Linked DNA regions of Homo sapiens. The protein of the gene in region 2 purifies or fractionates together with the protein of the main gene of each other region. This does not show direct contact. Each region holds a gene or a part of one and is shown on either strand. Other genes may lie near its edges.

The links. Proteins that work in one complex are often made in the same cells at the same time.
Region 1: the proteins of IL1F10 (region 2) and ISCA1 purify together in Homo sapiens (affinity purification with mass spectrometry; one large-scale study listed by BioGRID and IntAct). This does not show direct contact.

The regions. Positions count from the first base shown.
Region 1 is NC_000009.12:86,269,039-86,272,538, reverse strand, and holds part of ISCA1 (iron-sulfur cluster assembly 1 homolog, mitochondrial precursor), read left to right. Parts: intron 1-426; coding exon 427-532; intron 533-3,500. UniProt on the Homo sapiens protein: Involved in the maturation of mitochondrial 4Fe-4S proteins functioning late in the iron-sulfur cluster assembly pathway. Probably involved in the binding of an intermediate of Fe/S cluster assembly.
Region 2 is NC_000002.12:113,066,714-113,070,769, reverse strand, and holds the start of IL1F10 (interleukin-1 family member 10), read right to left. Parts: upstream 2,801-4,056; 5' UTR 2,754-2,800; intron 1-2,753. UniProt on the Homo sapiens protein: Cytokine with immunomodulatory activity. Alone, does not induce cytokine production, but reduces IL22 and IL17A production by T-cells in response to heat-killed Candida albicans. Reduces IL36G-induced production of IL8 by peripheral blood mononuclear cells.

The sequences.
Region 1 (3,500 bases), on a different chromosome or scaffold from region 2:
TCTGTATTGACTGCAGTCTTTTGCTTTCTGGTATTTGAGACTGTACACAAGTCTGCACTATAATTCAGATCCCATGTAGAGGTAGGATTGCCAGATGGTGGACTATGAACCCTGGTGAATCCTAACCATAAGGAAACATTCAGAGGATATCTCACAGAACAAGGTAGAGCAAAGACATTTTAAATAAAGTCCCAGGCTGGACGGGGTGGCTCCTGCCTTGTAATCCCAATGCTTTGAGAGGCCGAGGTGGAAGCGTTATTTGAGTCCACGAGTTTGAGACCAGTCTGGGCTACATAGTGAGACCCTGTCCTACAAAAAATAAGAGAAAGTCCATTTTGGTACGAGGAGGCTACTGTCACTTTATTAGTATAATTGTTTAATCTGTACTACTTTAAAACCAAGTTTATATTTTCACTTCTTTTTCAGGTAGGTGTAAAAGTTGGTGTCCGAACCAGGGGCTGTAATGGCCTTTCTTATACTCTAGAATATACAAAGACAAAAGGAGATTCTGATGAAGAAGTTATTCAAGATGGTGAGTTTTTAACAAACATTTTTTGGGCACATTGTTTTGCCTAAAATTATTAGCCTTGCACAGCACAAAGTAAAAAATAAGGATAGTAGCAGGAATTATGTAAATAATGCTCACTGTGTGTGTAGGTGTTGTTTGATGGAATTTCATGTATTAACTGATTTATACACAATGCTGAATGTGGGTGGTACCATATTATCCCTGTTTTTCTGATGAAGAAACTGAGGCACAGAGGGGTTAAATAGTTTAAGGTCATAATAAGTGGCCTAGTAAAATTCTTTCCAGAGACTGCTCTTAGTAACTAATTGATAAATTATTATATAAGCTTGTTTTAACTATGAAAGATCATCGTTGTGTCCAAAAAGTGAACCAGCCTTAAACCTCACAGTGAACCAACAGTTTTTGTGTAAGCAGTAGTTTTATATCTGTGTCAAATAAGTACGAGTTGAGCATTCCAATCCAAAAATCTGAAATCTGAAATGCTCCCAAATTCAAAACTTTAAAAGTGGGTGCTGACATGACACTCAGAGGAAATGCTCATTGGAGCTTTTTGGATTTGGGATGCTCAAGCAGTAAGTATAATGCAGATACAGTCATACATCACTTAACATTGGAGATACATTCTGAGAAATGTGACGTTAGACAAATATCCTGGGGTGTACTTAGACAAACCTAGACGGTCTGAGAAATGTGACATTGGACAAATATCCTGGGGTGTACTTACACAAACCTAGATGGTAGAGCCTACCATATGCCTCAGCTAGATAATATAACCTGTTGCTCCTAGGCTACAAACCTGTACTGCACGTGACTGTGCTGAATACTGTGCACAGTTCTGACACAATGGTAAGTATTTGTGTAAACGTACCTAAACAAAGAAAAAGTATAGTGAAATTTCTTTTATTATTATTATTATTATTATACTTTAAGTTTTAGGGTACATGTGCACAATGTGCAGCTTAGTTACATATGTATACATGTGCCATGCTGGTGTGCTGCACCCATTAACTCATCATTTAGCATTAGGTATATCTCCTAATGCTATCCCTCCCCCCTCCCCCCGCCCCACAACAGTCCCCAGAGTGTGATGTTCCCTTCCTGTGTCCATGTGTTCTCATTGTTCAATTCCCATCTATGAGTGAGAACATGTGGTGTTTGGTTTTTTGTCCTTGCGATAGTTTACTGAGAATGATGATTTCCAATTTCATCCATGTCCCTACAAAGGACATGAACTCATCATTTTTTATGGCTGCATAGTATTCCATGGTGTATATGTGCCACATTTTCTTAATCCAGTCTATCACTGTTGGACATTTGGGTTGGTTCCAAGTCTTTGCTATTGTGAATAGTGCCACAGTAAACATACGTGTGCATGTGTCTTTATAGCAGCATGATTTGTAGTCCTTTGGGTATATACCCAGTAATGGGATGGCTGGGTCAAATGGTATTTCTAGTTCTAGATCCCTGAGGAATCGCCACACTGACTTCCACAATGGTTGAACTAGTTTACAGTCCCACCACCAGTGTAAAAGTGTTCCTATTTCTCCACATCCTCTCCAGCACCTGTTGTTTCCTGACTTTTTAATGATTGCCATTCTAACTGGTGTGAGATGGTATCTCATTGTGGTTTTGATTTGCATTTCTCTGATGGCCAGTGATGACGAGCATTTTTTCATGTGTCTTTTGGCTGCATAAATGTCTTCTTTTGAGAAGTGTCTGTTCATGTCCTTTGCCCACTTTTTGATGGGGTTGTTTGTTTTTTTCTTGTAAATTTGTTTGAGTTCATTGTAGATTCTGGATATTAGCCCTTTGTCAGATGAGTAGGTTGTGAAAATTTTCTCCCATTTTGTAGGTTGCCTGTTCACTCTGATGGTAGTTTCTTTTGCTGTGCAGAAGCTCTTTAGTTTAATTAGATCCCATTTGTCAATTTTGGCTTCTGTTGCCATTGCTTTTGGTGTTTTAGACATGAAGTCCTTTCCCATGCCTATGTCCTGAATGGTAATGCCTAGGTTTTCTTCTAGGGTTTTTATGGTTTTAGGTCTAACGTTTAAGTCTTTAATCCATCTTGAATTAATTTTGGTATAAGGTGTAAGGAAGGGATCCACTTTCAGCTTTCTGCATATGGCTAGCCAGTTTTCCCAGCACCATTTATTAAATAGAGAATCCTTTCCCCATTGCTTGTTTTTGTCAGGTTTGTCAAAGATCAGATAGTTGTAGATATGCGGCGTTATTTCTGAGGGCTCTGTTCTGTTCCATTGATCTATATCTCTGTTTTGGTACCAGTACCATGCTGTTTTGGTTACTGTAGCCTTGTAGTATAGTTTGAAGTCAAGTAGCGTGATGCCTCCAGCTTTGTTCTTTTGGCTTAGGATTGACTTGGCGATGCGGGTTTTTTTTTTGGTTCCATATGAACTTTAAAGTAGTTTTTTCCAATTCTGTGAAGAAAGTCATTGGTAGCTTGATGGGGATGGCATTGAATCTATAAATTACCTTGGGCAGTATGGCCATTTTCACGATATTGATTCTTCCTACCCATGAGCATGGAATGTTCTTCCATTTGTTTGTATCCTTTTTTATTTCATTGAGCAGTGGTTTGTAGTTCTCCTTGAAGAGGTCCTTCACGTCCTTTTTAAGTTGGATTCCTAAGTATTTTATTCTCTTTGAAGCAATTGTGAATGGGAGTTCACTCATGATTTGACTCTCTGTTTGTCTGTTATTGGTGTATAAGAATGCTTGTGATTTTTGTGCATTGATTTTGTATCCTGAGACTTTGCTGAAGTTGCTTATCAGCTTAAGAAAATTTTGTAAAAGATCAAATGTGGTCGGGTGTGTTAACACAAGCCTGTTGTCCCAGCTACTCAGGAGACTGAGGCAGGAGGATTCCTTGAGTGTAGGAGTTCAAGAATGTAGTGCACTGGCCAGGCGTGGTGGCTCACCTGTGTAATCCCAGCACTTTGGGAGGCCGAGGTGG
Region 2 (4,056 bases):
GCCTGGGGTGGGGCCTGAGACTGTACATTTCAAATATGCAACCAGGTGATGTCAATGCTGCTGGTTCCTCCTGGCCAGCACTTTGAGTCCTAAAGGACTAGACAATCCCCCAGTACAGATAACTCAACAGCATCATGGCCTCAATGCAAGCCCACTTGATGATGGGCTCCCCTTGGCCAAACCACTGGGGCTTCTTTGGTTGTAGCAGCAGGACAGTGGGCAGTGTGGTAGCTGTGCCCAGATCTAGGTGGGGCAACAAAGTGGAGGGCCCTGGGTGAAGGTGGATAGCAAGCTGATGACTCCCACTCTGGGTCAGTGTCAGCTCAAAGAGCTGGAAGAAATTCAATGCTGGTCCAGTCCAGCTGGATCCCATGGGCCCTAGAAACCTCCCATTCTGGCACAGCCAAAATGTACAGTGTCTTTCCCAAAGGCTCCCCTATTCGGCTCCCTCCGCCTGGGTTCTGATAGATTGTGATGAAGTGAGTAAGGGTAGGAAGCTAGCGTCTGGTCCATCAGAGAGCCTGGGTCTTGGTGCTGAACCTCTGCTGTGTGCCAAGCCCCTCCCAGTGTGCCACATGCCTCACCCCCAAAGCTTCCCCTCCCTATTTTCCTCAAATGACTTTTCACTGAACTTCAGTCTATATCCCTCTTTTCTTCCTCTCATTTCTCCCTGGACATGGCATCTGGCTCTCAGACCTCCGCAATTCACCTGTCCTGGCTCAAACACTGCCATCAGCTAAACTTGGGCTTTCCCCATGTTCTTTTGCACAGCACCCTGTCCTATCCTTCATCATTCTCCTGCACAGTATCTATGTGGGATGTTCTGTCCAAGACCAATATTAACTTCTGTGGAGCAAGATCCAGAGATTCTTTTGATTCCTTTGATATTTAGTCATTGCCTCCTTGGAACCCTTGACATTGAATGACTCCCTTCACACCTCTTTCTCCCACTGTAGATTTCACCTCCTTCTGGGGCCACCCCTAAGGCTAACAAGGTCCTAAGCACTTCTATTTCACATCATATTAAGCTGCAATTCATTGACTTCTACAGCTGCAATGATTATCTTGGGCTAATGGCTCCCAAATGTAGACTGCACATCCCACTTTACCTCCTGCAGCCTACAGGACAGCCCACTTTGGACATCCTGCTGATATCCAACCAAATATATTTAAGGTTAAGTTAATTATCTTCTCCTCCCAGCCCACACATTCCTCCCAATTTCATTTCTCTCACTGTCATAATATTCCTCTCACCAGTGATATTCAAAACCTGAGACTCATTGACAATATCTCCTACTTCTCCTGACTCAGTGTCTAACTTATCAAGTCCCTACAGGTTATTTCTTTAAAATATAACTTTGTGTTTTTAATTGCCATTACTACTGTACTTGTATTCCCGGTTTTTCTGCCTTTCATTCATTCCAACCTATGTGAGGAATGTGGACCCACGTTCTAAAGATTTTTTTCACCACATCCCTGCCCAGCTCTAGAATCTACAGTGACTGACTGTTTTGTCACCGTCTGGCACTGATTTTCTTGTGTGATAGCATCTCACTTCTCCATGGACACTAAACCACACCTCCTGGCGACATAATTCCTTTCTTATCTTCTCAGTGGACGTACTCACAGGTGTCCCATTGTTCTCCCTGCCTCAAAAGTCATCCCTTCTCATTGTCATCCATTCAGATCTTTTGATATTAAGATCACTGGAGATAGTATCAGTATAGATGGGTTCAGTATCTAGTTCTATCAAATTAATTACCAGTGTAGAGTTACAGCTTAGACATACAGGGTTATGTCTTTTAACCTCCAACCCTCAGTTTCAGCACTATACATTCATGGGATTAGATTATGTGGTTATGAAGGTTCTTTCTAGGCCAAACTATTTATAATTCCATGACTCAGAGTTTAATGAATCTTTCCCTTACTATTGTAACTCTACTCTGAACTCCTATTAAATTTTACTGTATTATTTATTGTTGTACATAAAGATATTTGTTTCCCTTATAAAAGTTTATAAGATCTTGAAGTCATGAAGCATGGCTTACAGCTCACTTGAAGCTCTCTCCAACCACCCTAATTGAACTACCCTGGTCCTTGTGGCCAGGACATAGAAACACACAGAGCAGACTTTGAATAGAAAGGCTGAGTCCTAGACCTAGCTCTGCTACCAATTTATTTTGCCACCTTTTATCCCTGGGCCTTCAACTTATCAACATTGGATGGAAAGATTGAGTAAGGTATCTTTCAAAACTGTTTTAAGTTTCACAATAAAATTTTATGCAGAATTCTAATGATTGTAAAAAGGATAAAGGGCAGCTGCTTTGCTGACACAGGAAGCAATGGAGACTTTGGAACCCTGCTAGTATTTCTCTTGCCTACAAAGAAGACACTGAGGAGCTACCAAGGAGCACAAAAAAAAAAAAAACGAAAACAAAAAATCTCTTAAGCTTCCACCAAACACGGTTTGAATACCATTGGCCCAGATGGTTTCTTTTGAGATTACTTTCTAAAGTCAGTTGTTCTAAGTAGTTCAGAAATCTTGATTTGGCTTAACCTATTCCTTCTCCTCAAATCTCTTTATGTGCTCCTAAATGTTTTTGATGTCCCATCATGTCATATGAGGGGACTACCTTGTTACCTAGACAGCTTGCCAGGAGGAGTGAAGGGATAGAGGGCATACCAGAGATATTGACAGGAGAGAGTAGAAAAGAAAGAAAAGAGAGAGAGAATATTGCCTGTCCATCACTGACCTGCAGATCCTGAGTTCCTGGAACCCTGATCCCTGGAGACTCCAACTGATTTCTCCAGGGCATTGCGCTGTGTTTATACCGTCTGGTACAGGTGGGTCAGGCCTGCACCAATCTCTATAATTGGCTGCAGGACATGAAGGAAGAAGAGCCTGGGCATTTCACAATGTCTTTGGTACAGCATGAATAATAAGATGGTGGGAACATTAAGGAGCATTTGTTGAAGGGGGAGAGAGTCATCCATAAAGCCTTGGCAGAAATAAGGTATGGGGCCCCTGCTCTGTACTGACTGTCGTTGACTATGTTATTAGTGGGTTTGCAGCCAGATAAACAGTGCTGGGGTCAGACATCTTTGGTGCCCCGTGGGGCTCCATCCTAGGCTTGAAGAGGTGGTGAATACAAGAGAAAGTATGTCTGGCAAGCCCAAGGACAGAACAAATTCTGATGCCGGAATCCAGGCTGTGGCCAGACAGCCAGAATAAGAGAAGGGGCTGATAGCACTGTGAGTGTGACTCTGTTTGGAAAGACGAGAAGGGAGTCTCTGCTTTTCAGTGGGTTTAATTAGTTGGTACCAGCTTGATGGGACAGAACATCTAGGGAAACCCAACTGCAAAGATATTGACCTCAGATTCACCCTGAGACTGAGCAGACATCATGTGCCATGGACTGCTAGGAAATATGATAGTGTGAGTAGAGCACAGAGGAAAGAACACTCAGGTCTCTAATTGACATTACTTGACTCAGTCCATCCATCCATCCATCCACCCGGCCACCCATCTGTCCATCTATCTACCCATCTGTCCATTCTTCCATCCATCCATCATCCATCCAACCATCCATCCACCCATGTGCCCATCCATCCACCCTTCTGTCCACCCTTTCATCCATCCATTCATCCATCCATCCATCCATCCATCCATCCATCCCTCCATTACAAGCGTGGAGAAGCTTAGGTGTAATGTTCTCTGGAAACTAACAACCTTATTATAATTCTCCCTCTTTGGTCATTTGCAAAGTTCCACCAAGGGCTTCTTGAGGAAGTGGGATAGGTGGGTCTAAGACTCAGATGCCTGCAGGATGAGAAATGAGAAAAGATGGGCAGAAATGGGACCAGATTTCTGCTTTCTAAGGCCAGTGATCATTCTTCTTCCACTCTCCCAATCTCTCACCCTTCTATGGGAAGGCTTAAAGCATGAGTTACTATGTCAGGCAACCAATGAGTGTTTACCCAGCATTTACACTGCTGTGTGACACAGACATTCAATACACAGTCCTTGTTGTTAAGTAGTTTCACAGTCTAGCTGAG